2 linked regions of the Homo sapiens genome follow. The protein of the gene in region 2 purifies or fractionates together with the protein of the main gene of each other region. This does not show direct contact. Each region holds a gene or a part of one and is shown on either strand. Other genes may lie near its edges.

Region 1 (8,378 bases), on a different chromosome or scaffold from region 2:
GAATCCAGGCCAGAAAGAGGGCATTCAAGGGAGGAATTTCCTCCTTTTCCAGTCAATGGCAGCCTTCTCAGCTTGGTTTTCCAGGCTCAGGAACCCCATCTTTGGTGGTTAATGCCAATAAAATCCTCTTCCTTAGGGAAAAACACTATCCTCTTATACCACAAAATTTTACTACATGATCTTGATAAGGACAAAATAGCAGAATAATGCATTATCTTTACGTATTTAATGTAACTGCTTGTTTACACTGCCAAAAGAAAGGCTACTTTCCATAAACTTGAGATCATAGGGAAACTGGATATTATACTTTTAGCTTAGGCGTTAACTAATGGTACAAAGTATGTAAACCCCTATCACTTCTAAATGGCAGTTCACTGAATGAAAATCAGTTTACTTCCAATTTTTGTTTTGAGGATTAGAGGTTTAGAAAACATCTTTAAATATTAAAAAGTCATTAAAACAAGGGAAGCAAATTAAGTTTCAAATTAAGTTACTGTGGTTTTCCTGGGCCACTGTTGTCAGCCAGTTACAATGTGCTCCATTTCTCTAGACCCTAGCTCCTATTCTGAAGCTGGTATCTTACTTAAATTTTCCTTTCTAGGCCAGGCTCCGCGGCTCATGCCTGTAATCCCAGCACTTTGGGAGGCCAAGGCAGGTGGATCACCTGAGGTCAGGAGTTCAAGACCAGCCTGGCCAACATGGTGAAACTCCGTCTCTACTAAAAATACAAAAAATTAGCCGGGCATGGTGGTGTGAACCTGTAATCCCAGCTACTCGGGAGGCTGAGGCAGAAGAATCACTTGAACATGGGAGGCGGAGGTTGCAGTGAGCCGAGATTGCGCCACTGCACTCCAGCCTGGGCAAGAGTGAGATTGTCTCAAAAATAAAAAAAATAAAAAATAAAAAAAATAAAAAATAAATTTTCCCTTCTAAAAGGATCACAGTAACATGAATAGCAAATAGAACATTTTAGGCAGCAATTATCTAAAACGTGGATGCTCTTGAGCATGCATTCTCAATGGGGGTGAAAATTGGTTCATTGGGGACAAAAAAAAATTCTATTTTGTATAAAGCAAAAAACATTTACAGTCCATAAACAGATACATAGTATATATCTGGTGTTGAAATATCATGGGGAAGGGGTGACTAAGAAAAAAATCTAAAAAAGTTCTTCAGGGAGGTGATAAAGAAAAGGTTAAGAAGCCAGGTGTAGTGACTTATGCCTGTAATCCCAGCTACTTAGGAGGCTTAGGCAGGAGGACTGCTTGAGGCCAAGAGTTCAAAAACAGCCTGGGCAATATAGCGAGATCCCATGTCTACTTAAAAAAAAAAAAAAGAAAAGCTGCTGTGGAGATTCTTTTGCTAAGTCAGGAATATCTAACTTAACTGTATTTTTAAAAACCCTAAGTGCCGAGATAAAATGGAAAGTTACGGCTATTCCACTTCTAACCAATGTACTTGCAAATGGCTCCAGTTCTTTGATTTTTGTTTCTCCTAGCCAGAGTTGCTACAATTGTTCAAGGAAAATACTTGGATTTCTTTTTTTAAAGATGATAAATCATTAAGTTTATAACACATAGAGAGTATAAACCAAGAAAGTAAATTTATTTAAATTACTAAAATAGCTTTTAAAGTCATTTACAGATCAGCTGCTATAATTATTTTTCCTGAAAGACATAGGTAACATATTACTTTTAAATTACTTGGGTCAATGAAACATTTAATAAAAACATTTGTTTCTCTATATAATACGTATGTATAAAATAAGCCTTTTCAAAAACTCTGGTTTTCATAATCCTCTATAAATCAGATGATCTGACTTCTAAGAGGAACAAATTACAGTAAGGGGTATACATTTATGAATACTGGTAGTACTAGAGGAAAGACGTTAAACCACTCTACTACCACTTGTGGAACTCTCAAAGGGTAAATGACAAAGCCAATGACTGACTCTAAAAACAATATTTACATTTAATGGTTTGTAGACAATAAAAAAACAAGGTGGATAGATCTAGAATTGTAACATTTTAAGAAAACCATAGCATTTGACAGATGAGAAAGCTCAATTATAGATGCAAAGTTATAACTAAACTACTATAGTAGTAAAGAAATACATTTCACACCCTTCATATAAATTCACTATCTTGGCTTGAGGCACTCCATAAAATGTATCACGTGCATAGTAAATCTTTATATTTGCTATGGCGTTGCACTAGAGGACTTGGACTGCAACAAGTGGATGCGCGGAAAATGAAATCTTCTTCAATAGCCCAGGACAGCTGGTTAACAAATGGTTTGTCAATTCCTGAAACTCATTTCTTAATTCAAAACAAAAGCTTCAGGGTGTGTCCAAAATAAACTGTTACGAATTGACCTACTTTTTTTTTTTTGAGACGGAGTTTCATTTTTGTTGCCCAGACTGGAGGGCAATAAGCATGGTCTCGGCTTACTGCAACCTCCGCCTCCCGGGTTCAAGCAATTCTCCTGCCTCAGCCTCCCAAGTAGCTGGGATTTCAGGCATGCACCACCACGCCCAGCTAATTTTTGTATTTTTAGTAGAGACGGGGTTTCACCATGTTGGCCAGGCTGGTCTTGAACTTCTGACCTCAGGTGATCCACCTGCCTTGGCCTGACCTACTCTTAAGACTCAAGTGAACAAATATATTAAATTTTGCAATATACATGAAGAATCCTTGGGACAGCCAAGAATTTTTCTTCAAGGAAGGAAAAAGGAGATGTAAAAAACAAATCCCAACGGAATCCACCAAGATTAACAGTTCATATACCTATGTTTGACTAAACTACATCTCAGTGGATTACTGTAACATTTCCTCCCTTCAGCTTCCCCATTAATTTTCCTTCCTTGCCTTGTTCTTTCCATTTTCCAAAAAACAAAAGAAAAAAATTCCAAACACACACCTAGATGACCTTTCATTACTTATGTTCCTATAGGCAGAAGCTAAGGAACTCACACCTAAATGGTATAAAAGGGAACATAATGGGAAAATCCCTGGTTACATTTAGGGAGCAATCTTACTAATAACTCAGGAAACTTAGTGAGAAATCTAAGTTAAAAAATCAGGAAGGTTCATAAGAAAGGACACAAATCCCTCTCACTGGTCATACCATAACTGTAATAACTCAGCCCAGAATCAAAACAGATTCTCTAAGGAACTGCATATAATCTGCACTCCTAAGATACCTTTAACAGAGCTCTCAATGGAAACTGAAATGATTCTCTCATATCACAGATAATTAGGTTGAATGAATGATTTATATGTTCCATGTTTATGTAAGCACTTAACTTCTTTAAAAAGAAACTAGTTCTTTCAAAAAGAGCTCTGAATTCTGTCTCTGGTTAGAAAGTGTGAACAATTCTCAGAACTTGGGACATGATTTTTCTTCTCTCTCACTTCTTATAAGCAGATGCCCCTTTTCAGGGCATTTTCAGGTTGCACAGGCAGAACTAAGTGAGAAATACGGCTCCAGAGGCCATTCAGTTTGTCTGGGTCCATATGATTGTAGGAGTTGGGTGTGTTAGAATTGGTGAACTTGACTTTAAGAAAATCTCTTACTTTTTCTTCAACTTCCTTTAGGCCTAGACTTGTTCCAAGTGTCTCTTCCTCCAATAAGACAGTCAGGACTAAGGCTACATCTTTGAAGGCCGCGTTTTCATGGTCACAATATTTGTAGAAGATCAAAGTAGAGCCTGCGGGAAATGACTCAAAGCGGTGTACCACAGCTGCATTCTGGCCATTCTTAAATCCATTGCTCAGTTCTTGGTCTACCTCTAGTTTGACAGTATCACTGTCTTGAGTAGCTTTATCTGTCCCATCAATCCGGATGGCACGGACACTACGAAAAGAAGAATAGGCATCAGCAATTTGTTCACTCAGACACCTAAGTGCTTCTTCAGCATCTCGGGCAGCAGTGAGCAGTAAGATAGCAGGCTGAGACCGAGGATGGGAGCTATTAAGATGTTTTTCCAGGAATGTTTGGCTCCTTTTCCACAGCTTCTCATCTTGACCTTGGTACTTATTCTTAAGTTGATTCATCTGGTTCTGGAACTCTTGAACAGCAGTGGTTTCTACCTCAGGAGTACTAAAGAACCAAAAACTCCCAGAGGCAAGAGCAGCTATCAGAGGAAGTAGCCACCACCGGTTCCTCTTGACAAAAGATGCATTTTGGGGTTGTCCAGTCACTTCTACTCAGACAAAAAAGAAATGACAGATATAAATACCACTTTCTTAGATTCAGGGGCAAGTGACTTTTAAAATCAATATCAGTCTTTATAAACATTAGGTAAAAGAGGAAGGACTTTAAAGAAGAAAGCTGATAATTTTCTTAATAAAATAATTTATCACATTCTCAAGAAAATCTTACATGCATAGGCTTTGAATTATGTGTACAAATATGCATATGTCTCTTCAATATAAAAATAAGTCTTTGAGGAAAAAAGTTTTTAAACATATGAAATGGCATAAACAAGTCAGAAAAATAATAGTTTATAAAGCGAAGTTATTATTTTCACTGCTAATAGTTGGGAGAATAGACTATTAAAATACAATTTATAAAATATTTTTTTAATTTAGTAACTCAGCATTCACATGGCTAATTATTCAAGGTGAAATATTTCTGAAGTACATAAAGGGATAAAGAAAAGGATGCAGGCTGGAAGTGGTGGCTCATGCCTGTAGTCCCAGCACTTTGGGAGGCCGAGGAGGGAGGATCACGAGGTCAGGAGATCGAGACTGTGAAACCCCGTCTCTACTGAAAATACAAAAAACTAGCTGGGTGTGGTGGCACACACCTGTAGTCCAGCTACTTGGGAGGCTGAGGCAGGAGAATCACTTGAACACGGGAGGCGGAGGTTGCAGTGAGCCGAGATCACGCCACTGCACTCCAGCCTGGGTGACAGAGAGAGATTCCATCTCAAAAAAAAAAAAAAAAAAAAAGAAAAGGATGCAATATAAATGAACATCTTCTACGTGTTATAATAGCTAGCTGTCCCTTTAGATTAATTTCACTGATGCCTTTTGTGGTATGCAAGTTAACACTGGTAAAATTTAGTTTGTGACTCATCCCTAGTTACTATTGGCAATAATAATAGGATTAATTTATATTTATCTAGTGCTTTTCGGTTTATAAAGTACTTTCTCATATTCTACTTCATTTATTCAGTTGATAGTAACAATAATACTTTTACATCTTTTACTTATTGACTGTTTCAGGCTATTAATTTTAGTAGGGACCTTTTAGAGCAGCAATTCTCAAGGCGTGGTCTGTGGGGTACCTCAAGACCCTATTTTGTGGGGAGGGGGGTCCATGAAGTTAAAGCTATTCTTCTAACACTAAGATGTTATTTGACTTTCACCTTGTGTTGACATTTGCACTGATGACGCAAAAGCTATGGTGAGAAAAACTTCTGATGCCTTAGCATGAGTTACAGGGCAGTGGCACCAAACTGTACGAGTGTAGTCATTGTTATTTTTCACTGCCATGCATTCAAGATTTAACAAAGGGACATTCTTTTACTTAAGAATGTCCTTTATGAAGCAGTTAATTATTTATCTTATTAAATCTGAATCCTTGAGTACATATGTCAATATTCTTTCTGAACAAATGGAAGGTATGCACAAAGCACTTCTGCTGCATCATACAGTACCATGGTTGTCTCAAGGAAAAGAATTTTGTGCAAATGAATTACAAGGCGAATTAGCACATTTTTCATGGAATACTATTTTTTACTTGAAAGAACAAGTAACAAACTACAGTCAGACTTGTGTATTTGGCAGATATTTGCTTTCAAGTGAAAATTAGGATTTTAGAATCCTAAATCTGCCACCATGAGCTTGACAACTCCCAATATTGTACTTTAACACTTTCTTTTTTTTTTCTGAGATGGAGTCTCGCTCTGTGGCCCAGGATGACATGAAGTGGTGCGATCTTGGCTCACTGCAACCTCTGCCTCCCAGGTTCAAGTGATTCTCCTGCCTCAGCCTCCTAAGTAGCTGGGATTACAGGTGCGTGCCACCATTCCCAGCTAATGTTTTTGTATTTCTAGTAGAGACAGGGTTTTGCCATGTTGGCCAGGCTGGTCTTGAACTCCTGACCTCAGGTGATCCATCCGCCTGGGCCTCCCAAAATGTTGGGATTACAGGCATGGGCCACGAACCCCACCCTTTAACACTTTTTTAAAGTCTTGAGATTGGCAGTGATGTTAACAAATGTGATATTTTTTATTACATTCCTAATGTGTCAATGTTTGGAAAATCTGCATTCCTCAGTGAACCAATGTTTTCCAAATGACCAGTGCATGATACTCCATTCAAAGTATAAGAAAGACCAATGACTTTTAATGTAATAGAGTACTAAAAGCTCAGTAAGATGGTTTTAGATATCCTATTTCAAGTAACATTTAAGAAACTACCACTTGTTGAGTTTTGGAGAGTTCAAAAAAGAATAGCCACAATTATCTGAAGAGGCTATTAAAATTTTTCATATCTGTATAAAAGCTGGATTTTTTGTAGATACTTCAACAAAAATAATATATTGTAACAGACTGCATACAGAAGCATATATGATAATCCAAATCCATTTTTTAAAGCTAGGCATTAAAGAGATTAGAAAAAATGCAAAGCAATCTGATCTGTTACTCTTCTTGCTAAATTATTTTAAAATAAATTAATACATATTTTAAAAAATGTTTCAACTTTAATTTCCTGGTACATATGGATAGACATAACCCATATTTTCAACAAAAAGCTCTTTGAGGTTCTTAATAACTTTACTAGTGTAAAGCGGTACCAAGAACAAAAAATTTCAGAATCATCATTAATCTATTTTCTTTTTTTTTTTTTTTTGAGACAGAGTCTCGCTCTGTTGCCAGGCTGGAGTGCAGTGGCACAATCTCGGCTCACTGCAACCTCCGCTTCCTGGGTTCAAGTGATTCTCCTGCCTCAGCCTCCTGAGTAGGTGGGACAACAGGCGTGTGCCACCACGCCCAGCTAATTTTTGTATTTTTAGTAGAGATGGGGTTTCACCATGTTGGCCAGGATGGTTTCGATCTCTTGATCTCATGATCCGCCTGCCTTGGCCTCCCAAAGTGCTGAGATTACAGGCATGAGCCACCACGCTCAGCCCATTAAGTTATTTTCTTAGTACTCTTTCAGGACAATAAGACTTGGAGAACTAAAGAAACTTGCCACAAGGCTGTAAAGGAGGTAAGTGGTCCAATCTAGTTCAAATACAGGTTTGCAGACTCCGAAAGCCATTGTAATCCCATAAAGTCATGCTCTGGCTAACTTTCTTTCAATTCAGCATGGTTTTCTCAGTTAACAGTATTAGTAGCTTTACTTATTTTAGCTATTATTTTTGGTCTTATAGACAGTTAAGTGAAGAGCAATACCAGATGTTGTCTCATAAAGTTTGTCTATAAAGAATTTCACTGCTAGTAGAATATATACTTTTTCCTCTCAAGTGCTTAAAATGTGATTCTTCAAATAGCATCGAGTCATACTGCTGTCAAAAAACATTTTTAAACAATTATGGAATACCAATTTTACAGAAATATTTAATAAAAACTGAATACATAAACTTACGTCGGCTGGAGGTTGATGGTGACTGGTTTCCAAGCTCTGATTTCAGAATGCTGTCATCTAATGGTGAGAGTAATAAAATAAGACTATCAACTTATGCTTCATAATTTGAGTATTTATTTCTAGTAGACAAAGAAGATACAAATTCCACCAGGAAAAAAAGAAGACAGAGATCAGCCAGAAGCAGAAGAAAAAGTAGAATATCTGAGTGCCGATTAGACTGAGAGCTCCTTGAAACACATGACCTATTTCTTTCATAGCTTTTCACAGCATATGGTGGGGTCTAGTACAAAGCACACAATAATTAGTTTTGAGAGAAAGTTTGGAAGTATTTGACCCATTAAGTATCTAATGGGATTGGTGAAACTTCCGGGATAAAAAGGACAAAGAAACTAAGCACACCATAATAAAATGAAACATATTATACCATCTGAAAAACTGCCATATATTGAACTCTTGCCTGGTGAAGATGCTGTAAAGAGGGGGAAAATAAGGACAAAATGTGGATTACAGACTACTGAGCTGTCTGGATAAGGTGTTTTAATATAAAAATCTTAATCCTCACTATTTTCTACCTCAAACTGATTCAGTATTTCCTCTGGGGATTCTGACCATTTCAAATACTAGTAGTATTTTAAAATCACATTTAAAAACTTCTCATCATTTCTGTTAATAGACAAGTAATAAAGTAATTCTGTTTTAGGCTTGTGGTTAAACAATAGAGCTCAAAAATAATTTTCTCTCAACTCTGTCAAATTTCTACTTTCATCTAAATCTATT
Region 2 (8,683 bases):
TCTAATCACGTGTTAAGGGAGATGGGGTCTAGGTATCCACAAGTGTTATGGTAAGACCAAGGGGACAATGTTAACATGTCCCAAGGGGTTAAAAAAAAACCAAAAACTGACAGAGGGCATGATGCCCAGGCTGGTTCTTGAAGGCCAAGAAAGGGTTAGGCAGGAATGGAAGAGGGGAAGCATGTGTGCAAAGGCAGACAGGCTTAAGAAAACACAGTCTATTCAGGAACTCCAATTAGCTTGCATAGCTAGAGGATAGAACGTAAAACAGACTGAACAGGTACAAAGAGAGCAACGCATGAAGGGCCTTGTGTGGCACGCACGCTAGGGAATTTGGATCTTAGTCTCAGGGTGAAGGGAGATCAGTAAAAGGCTGCGGAGGCGGGTGGATCACTTGAGGTCAGGAGTTTGAGACCAGCCTGGCCAACATGGTGAAACCCTGTCTCTACTAAAAACACAAAAACTAGCTGGGAGTGTCATCCCAGCTACTCGGGAGGCTGAGGCAAGAGAATTGCTTGAACCTGGGAGGCAGAGGTTTCAGTGAGCTGAGATTGCACCACTGCACTCCAGCCTGAGGGACAGAGTGAGACTCTTGTCTCAAAAAAAAAAAAAAAAAAAAAAAAAAAGAGTAACAGTTGTAGATGAAGCCATAGGTATAGGTATGGATGAGATAGTACAGAGTATGTAGACTGAGATGCAAGCAGAGACAAAACCCCAGGGCATTGTAATCTCTCTCTCATCTGAATACCTATACCATTTGTCTGTTACATATTGAATTTGTCATATGCTGCAATAAACATTTAGCTCAGTGCGTACTGTGTACAAATGCTAGATATGAGGGTACAAAGAATGAAAGATCTTTTCACCCAAGGAGACTATGATCTAGTTGTGGAGAAAGAATCATGCCCAATTATTATGCAAAATGAAGTTAAATAGAAACTATAAGTGTGTTGAGTGTAGAAGAGGCAATTAATTCAACGGAAGAGCTAATGCAGCTTTCAGGAGGGGAGGGAAACATTTGAGTTGGACTTTGCAAAAATAAGTGGATTTTAACAAGCAGGGCAGGGGAAAGAAAGGCAAGTAATTTTAGGCTGGAAAGGAACACATGTAAAGATCACAACAGAATGGAGTGTAGGAAGTGGTGGGGAGAAAGAGGCTGGAAAGGTTGCCTGAGGCCAGGATCTAGGTGCTTGGGAATGCTGTTGAGGTTTCTTAGGTGTCATTTGAAAGATGGCACACATGTGCTGATGTACCCAAGGCCTCCACCTAGTTCTGAATTTCAGAAATGCCTGGAAGACCAATGAATCAAAAATGCTTAAGGAAATCTAAACATCACCAAACTAAGGCTTGAGGCTTGTAAATGCTTTTTCTCAGTTCTATATTTTCATTTTGCAAGACTGCAAAACTCTGTGTTAGTAGAACTTTAATTACTTGGCTTCATTATAAAATTTCCATTGCATATAAGAGTATAAATAATTTCACTCTAATGCTCTCATTTGAATCTGCGGCTGAAAGCACTGGCAGAAATCACATTTTCATGGCACTTCCTTGGCATGTTGAAGGAAAACAAAATGTATTCTGCTAATCAAGTCATTAGTGACTTTGAAAGTGATGGATTATATCAAAAAACAGCAAATAATCAGAGATAAAGAAGTATATTTTAAAGATTAAAAATATTTTATTTAAACTTTTCTTCATAAACACTTTTAACATTTTTTTCAATTTAAAAACAGAATGGATAGCATAAACATGTTTGAATAGATTATATCCACGGCTTGGGAAAAATTACCTGACAAAAATGTAAAGGCTTTCAAAACAGGTATAAAAGGCAAACCTTAAATTATTCTAAGATTTTTATATCGGCCCTAGGATTATTTGACTACTGGCCCAAAATGTACCTAAAGGTCAAAATATTTTTCTATAGACAAAGTATGCCCAAGAGGTATAGGGCATATACAAGTTAGGTAGAAAATAACCTCTCCCAATCACCTCACTGGACCATTCCTTCAGAAAGCAAACACCTAATCCTTACTATATACTGACTAATAACATTTTAAATGCAGTTGTTCCCAAAATGTAAAAAGAAAACCAAAGAATTTAAGGGAGAACAAAGCTGATGGCATTCTCCTCAATGTTACTTGTGTAATATTGAAGTTATACGGTGTACTGAAAGGATATGATTTCCATGAATTTATCTATTCCAGTCTATGCCTACTGAATATTTGACTTTATAAACTCTGGATAAACTAATTTTTAGGACTTCCATTTTTAAGATAAATCTCTTTTTAGAAGATATTTATTCCCAAACCAACTCTAAATGTAATTGAACAAACATATGATCTCTCAAAATGTTCAGAATACAAAAACAAAAATCAAAAATGTATAACAGGCAAACAAGAAAACTGGCACTAGCAGTTTTACTGCCATATAGCCCTCAATTATATCTGATTTACACTATTATCTATGTTGCATTTTACTTCAGTCTAAAACTTTAAATTATGAATTCTCAAAAGAGCTAGTCTCCTCTGAGAGATAGCTTATAAACTGAAATAACAATTTATATTATAAACTGAAATGTTATGACCTACACCCACATATACATATATAAAAATAGTCCCACTGAACGTTTGACATGTTTAGATTATGCAGCTCAAATAATCTGTTATAAAATATTTTAAAGCTTAGTTTCATGTAATTAAGACAAAACTCCATTTTTACCACTTCTCCCCACATAAAGCGTGTGTCCTTTACTATGACTCGAGCAGGCTTCCCAGAATGAGGTGTCCAAAGGTGCTGCTTTAGAAAAGATAAGTGAAGGGCTCAGTCAGTATTTCACAAATTCTAGTAACACTCACACAGAGCAGAGTAATGAGGACACAGAAAGCTGTCTCAAGAAAAGCTAATAATTCTATTAGTTAAGCTTTGCTTTTTAAAAACCAGTAGCATTTCTTCCAACACAAAACCTTCAAAGTGAGAATCTTGCATTTTAAGAAAAGGCTGTAGTGCAAGGAATTTCTTTAAAATCAAAACTTAGAAGGTCAAAGACACGGAAGAGAACAAATGGTTCTAATTAAGATGTAATTAATGAAGATCAGCTATTTTTGTGAACTCTGGCATTTGAGATATAAAGTGAAAACAACACGCATAAAGGTCATAACAGTTAAACTGTATAGATTCAAATCTTACTGAATTTTTCAAAAAACTACTTTTTTGAGCGCAATGTATATAAACAAAAACTCCAAATGAAGCACACAAAAAATAAACTTGAAAAAAATGCTATGAAAAACTTTTCCATAGTTTAGTATAACAAAAATAAATCTCTTGCAGCAATAAAACCATAATTTTAAAAGGGAATGTAAGTTAATCATGGATTTAAAATAACCTAAATTAGAACTACATATAAACAGGGAGTTTTCTCATACATTCAGAACCCAAGCAACAGCAACTATCCTTAAAGCTCAAAACTGATTACAGCTAACATCAGGTCCGACGTGACTTACGTAAAGCTGAACCCAGAGTTAGTTCAAGTTAAGATTTTACGAATTTTACAAAACATGAACTTTGATCTTGGCCTCTGTCTTTAAAATGGAAGACCAAGAATACTCAAATGTTTGCCCAGATGTCACCCTGACTAGGGTCATGAAGTCATATCTAAGCAATTAAAGAGAACCACCACTATAGTGTAAAGGCTTTGATGTGGATACCTGGCCTGATGGCTCTTTCTTGGTCTTTTCTAGCAAAAGACATCAATGAGGAAAATAATGAAGACGTTATTTTCTTTAAAGCAAAATAGCACACATACAAAGCCACTAAACTAATGTAGAAAAAAATTAAATGGCTAACTTATTCCTAACTTTCAAAAATAAAATAATGTATTTTTTAAATGTAGAAAAAGACTTTTACCCATATTACCATGGGAAACAAGATACCAAATTTCATGTTTGGAAACTGTAAGTAAATGACAGGACTAGTTAATGAAAATATAAGTCTCATATATAAAATAAGATTATTATTGATTTTTGAAATCAATGCCAATGGTTTTTTCAAAAGCTACTTATGTACCTGGTTTCTTAAACCCAAATGCCTCCAATTCTGGAGTTTGAAGATCAGGTTTAATCTCATAGTATGTCTAATAACTGCCCAAAAAACCCCCAAAAACCAAAGTCTTCACATTTCCATGACTTCACACTTCCATTTTATGTTCAATGGTGGCAGCAGCAAAAAAACAAACAAACAAACAAAAAAACAAAAAACACCAAACAAAGTGAAACTAGAAAATTTATACATCAGCAGCCATATAGAAGGCATTGCAATATTGCACCAATATTCTAAGATCTGGCAAGTTTTGCCAGTATAGATCTAGTCTGTATCAGATATAGACTACTCATGCGCAAATGGCATCAATTTCAATGATCCACTCCCAGGTTATTCTTGCTTAACTTTGTCAACTATGTTTTTTCCTCTGCATTTAAAGAGTTGAAAGGTGCAGCTAATCCTAAAACACTTATTATAAATGCTTTTAAACAGCTATTCTTGATCCATTCTGAACTTTGTGGTTACTATCCTTCATGCTAATAGCTTTCAGTAAATAAAACAAAAACTGAGGGCTTACATCCCTAGTGTCGCTGGGTATTTTGTACAAAATAAACAAGTAGATAAAACCAGTAACATTATAATTCTATTTCTTACCTCTAAGTCAAAACTGAGGTCAAATTTTCTAAGAGTTTCTACCTTCCATTCAATAACAAATGCAGCAGCCTTACTGAATGTAAAAAATGGGAGTTGCACTTACTTTTAAGGGGCCTTGATTTAGGAGTCTGGTATTACCTAAATGCTCTTTAAAAGTGCTTGCATGCTGCAGGGCCAGAACTTGTCATATACCACTCCGATTCTCACTAAAAACAGGGTAACGTTAAACAGACTGCAAAGAAAAACATTTTCAAAAAGAAAAGACATACATCGACAAAGAACACTAACATTTACTTTTGAAAATAAAATATAAAGTGTTAGTTTTCATAACCATACATGTTTCAGAAATATAAGGAGTTCAAATATTACTGAATCAGTATGGACTGAAGATAGGCTACTTTGATAGCAAATGAGGACTCCAGTTATTTCAACTTTCTAAAAATGTTAATATGTGAAAAGACGTTACATCTAAAATTCAACAAGTATGGCGAACTGTGTGTGCAAGTAAGTGCACTAGCTTAAAAATATAGAATCCTAACCACGCATAAAAGGGATGTGCCTTGTGTATTTATAGGTTGTATGCGAGTATGAATATGCTTTCACTAACACAATGCGGATAAGAGAAGGCAGCTTAGAAATAGTGTTTTGAATATAAAAAGTTAATTTTGTAGAAAATTTATATTTTTGCATTTTCAGCAAAAAGCCATGCAAAAAGGTCAAGAGTTTTAAACTTTTAAATAATAAAACTAAAAAGTATAACAGACTGAAATACACTGAAATAAATCTTCAAAAAGGTTTCAGATAGAGACAGAGACTGAAATCACATCCAGTGACACTTATCGGGTCTTCTCTTAGAAGACACATGACTCCTACGCTAACATCTGAAAGAAATGTTTAAAGCAGAAAATCAATATCCCAGATAAGTGGAGCATTCTATTCAACTGCTTCTGGAAGTAGTTTCAAGAGCTAGCACTTAGAATTAACTTATTGCATGAGTTTGAGGCCACTGAAAAGAAAAAAAGGATGCTAGCACAGAATGAAAAATTCTTACAATGTTAGACCAATGGCTTTGATAGTAAAACTGGTGAGGTTTTTCTTTATATGTTTTAATTAATTACTCTGTGCAAACAAATACTTTGTTTGCCTCTTTTTTTAGGGAGGAGGATGTCATTAGTTGCAACGCCTGACCTCATCCAGTACATAGTCCGGAAAATGCAGGTTGCATACTTGTAAACCATCCAGCTTGCAGGGCATCCGAGGGTACTCATCTTCCTTCCACTTGTTTTCATCCGGATCAAAAGTGAGGATGGAATCGCTGTAATGACCATTATAACAAAGGCCTCCAAGAACCATTATTTGTTTGTCCAGCACAGTCACACCATGGCCACTTCTACCAATCGGCATGGATGCCAAGATGGTCCACTGATCAGTCTCTGGGTTGTATACTTCTGTAGAAGGGCATCCCTGAGATTCGAAAGAGGCCCTCAAGATCACACAGACACCACCGAAGACATAAAGCTTGCCATTGTAAGAAATCATCTTGTGAAAGCATCTCGCGTAATTCATCTTGCTCTTATTCTCCCAACAGTTGGTAACCACTTGAGTTCTCCTGGTCCGTTGTTCTATGGTCCCTTCTTTGCTGGGGTCAAACACGCACACTTGCTTGGAGGTGGAAGATGAGGTGATTCCACCGGTGATAAACAATTTGTTATTGAGCACTGTCCCCTCATGTCCATATTTGTTAACTGGATAAGGATCCACAAATTCCCATTTATCGTTGGTGATGTCATATCTCTCAGTTGAATAGAAAGTCTCATCTCTGGTTCTGCCTGCTACGGCGTAAATAAACTTCCCAATAACACCTACAGCAAATTCAGAGCGTGGTACAGACATATCTGCCATCTGCAGCCAGGAGTTCTGTCTCGGGTCATACCTGAATACTTTGGAAGAAGCATGGAATTCACCATCCGGGCCCAGCTCTTCCCCGCCTAACAGGAACACAAAATTATTGACGATAGCAAGGCAGTCAGGTCGCAGAGGTACTTGTGGGCCTTCTAGCTCCCACCAGACTCTTGGTTTCTTTAAGAGAAGTATTTTACTGTTAACCATGCTATGTCCAATCATTCCTCGAAATACTGTAGTTTGCGGTTTTGCAGAACGGATGCGGCTTGACTTCATATCCAACAAAGGCTGCTGGTGAACATTCTGAAAGTAATTCAATGCTTGGTCAACTTCGTAACGGAGCTGTCGGGAGTATCTATAAAATTCTGATGTCTTAACCTAAGAACACAAGAAAAAGAATTTAACCAAAGGAAAAAGCATCAGCTGCAAACAAATTATCAAAGCTGACTAATACGATCATCTTAGGCTCACTTTACTAAAACTGCTTTTCCTGCTAAGATCACCTACTTTCTTTTGTTTTCTACAAAGCTTTTAAAAAATCTTTTTTTTTTTTTTGGAGATGGAGTCTCACTCTGTTGCCCAGGCTGGAGTGCAGTTGCATGGACTCAGCTCACCGCAAGCTCCGCCTCCCAGGTTCAAGCACTTCTCTGCCTCAGCCTCCTGAGGCGCCTGCCACCACGCGCCCAGCTAATTTTTTTATTTTTAGTAGAGATGAGGTTTCATCATCTTGACCAGGCTGGTCTTGAACTCCTGACCTTGTGATCCACCCGCCTCAGCCTCCCAAAGTGCTGGGATTACAGGCGTGAGCCACTGCACTGGGCCTCCTATGTTTTCTTAATTTATAATGATCTATGTACATTCCCAAGCTTTTAAGAGTAAACAAATAATTAGGCACCTATTATGTGAAGCCCTGGGCTACAAGTAGCGGGTATGAGGACAAGTACAGGGCTTCACAGTAGAGGAAACCATATCCACAGTTTTCTTAACCACAAGTAACATCATAAAGCTGTGACTGAATCATTTGGGGAGTTAAGTTAGTGAAAATTTAAATACATGTAAAATTTCGGGGTTTTGACATAAAGACTTGGTCTGATAACTCCTGTAAGAATTCAGTAGATATCAGGTCAAACTTTTTCCTTTAATTTTTAAAATTTTATTTTAAAATTATTATTACTATATATTTTTAGAGATGGGGTCTTGCTCTGTTGCCCAGGCTGGTCTTGAACTCCTGGCCTCAAGCGATCCTCCTGCCTCAGCCTCCTGAGCTGCTGGGATGACAGGTGTGAGTCACTGCGCCTGGCAAACATTTTCCTTTTTGCTTCTGGAGCTGGAGCTACCTAATTATGATGACTACCAAGATTTATATAAAGCATTTTTGGCCAGGTGCAGTGGCTCATGCCTGTTGTCCAAGCACTTAGGGAGGCCAAGGTGGGAGGATCACTTGAGACCAGCCTGGGCAAACAAAGCAAGACCTCATCTCTACAAAATTAATAAAATAAAATAAAAATAAAGCACTTTTAAGTATTGTCCTAAGTGCTATAGGGAGAAACAAAAATAAGCGTAAGATGTGATCCGTTTCCTTAAAGAACCTAGAATGTATTTGGGAAAGTGGAAACAAATACAAATTTACCAATAGGTAAATGAGTCAGGTGACAATTAGGTATGAAGCCAAACAGCACATCTGTGAGTGTGGCAGAATTAGAGATAAAGATTATACTAAACTGGCCCAAGACATTCAAGAGATACTTTGTGGAAGATATAAGAAGTAGGGGACCAAGCAGAAAAATCCTTTGTCATAATAAGACAAGGATAAGAGGGTCTTAAATTTGGGTAACAGGAATTAGATAGCGTAGAGATAACATCTACAGACAACCATGACTGATTTGAAATAGGGTGAAAGAATGAGGACTCAAATGTGATTTGAGCATTTAGACTTGAGGTGATGGAAAGAGTGTTGATATCAATAGGGAAAGCAGGGAAGATGAGCTGGTTTGGGAGAGGTATTCAACTTCCTTGATAGGGTTCTGAGGCGGAAATGTCTAAGAGCCTGTTGGAAATCTGGGATGACAGTTTGGGAGGGAAGTCAAAACCA

What was found. The genes of interacting proteins can lie anywhere in the genome.
Region 1: the proteins of KLHL15 (region 2) and TOR1AIP1 purify together in Homo sapiens (co-immunoprecipitation; 3 studies listed by BioGRID and IntAct, with this or other methods). This does not show direct contact.

Annotation. Positions count from the first base shown.
Region 1 is NC_000001.11:179,913,278-179,921,655, reverse strand, and holds the end of TOR1AIP1 (torsin-1A-interacting protein 1), read right to left. Parts: intron 7,659-8,378; coding exon 7,602-7,658; intron 4,205-7,601; coding exon 3,417-4,204; 3' UTR 1,580-3,416; downstream 1-1,579. UniProt on the Homo sapiens protein: Required for nuclear membrane integrity. Induces TOR1A and TOR1B ATPase activity and is required for their location on the nuclear membrane. Binds to A- and B-type lamins. Possible role in membrane attachment and assembly of the nuclear lamina.
Region 2 is NC_000023.11:23,982,062-23,990,744, forward strand, and holds the end of KLHL15 (kelch-like protein 15), read right to left. Parts: intron 6,970-8,683; coding exon 5,860-6,969; 3' UTR 1,659-5,859; downstream 1-1,658. UniProt on the Homo sapiens protein: Substrate-specific adapter for CUL3 E3 ubiquitin-protein ligase complex.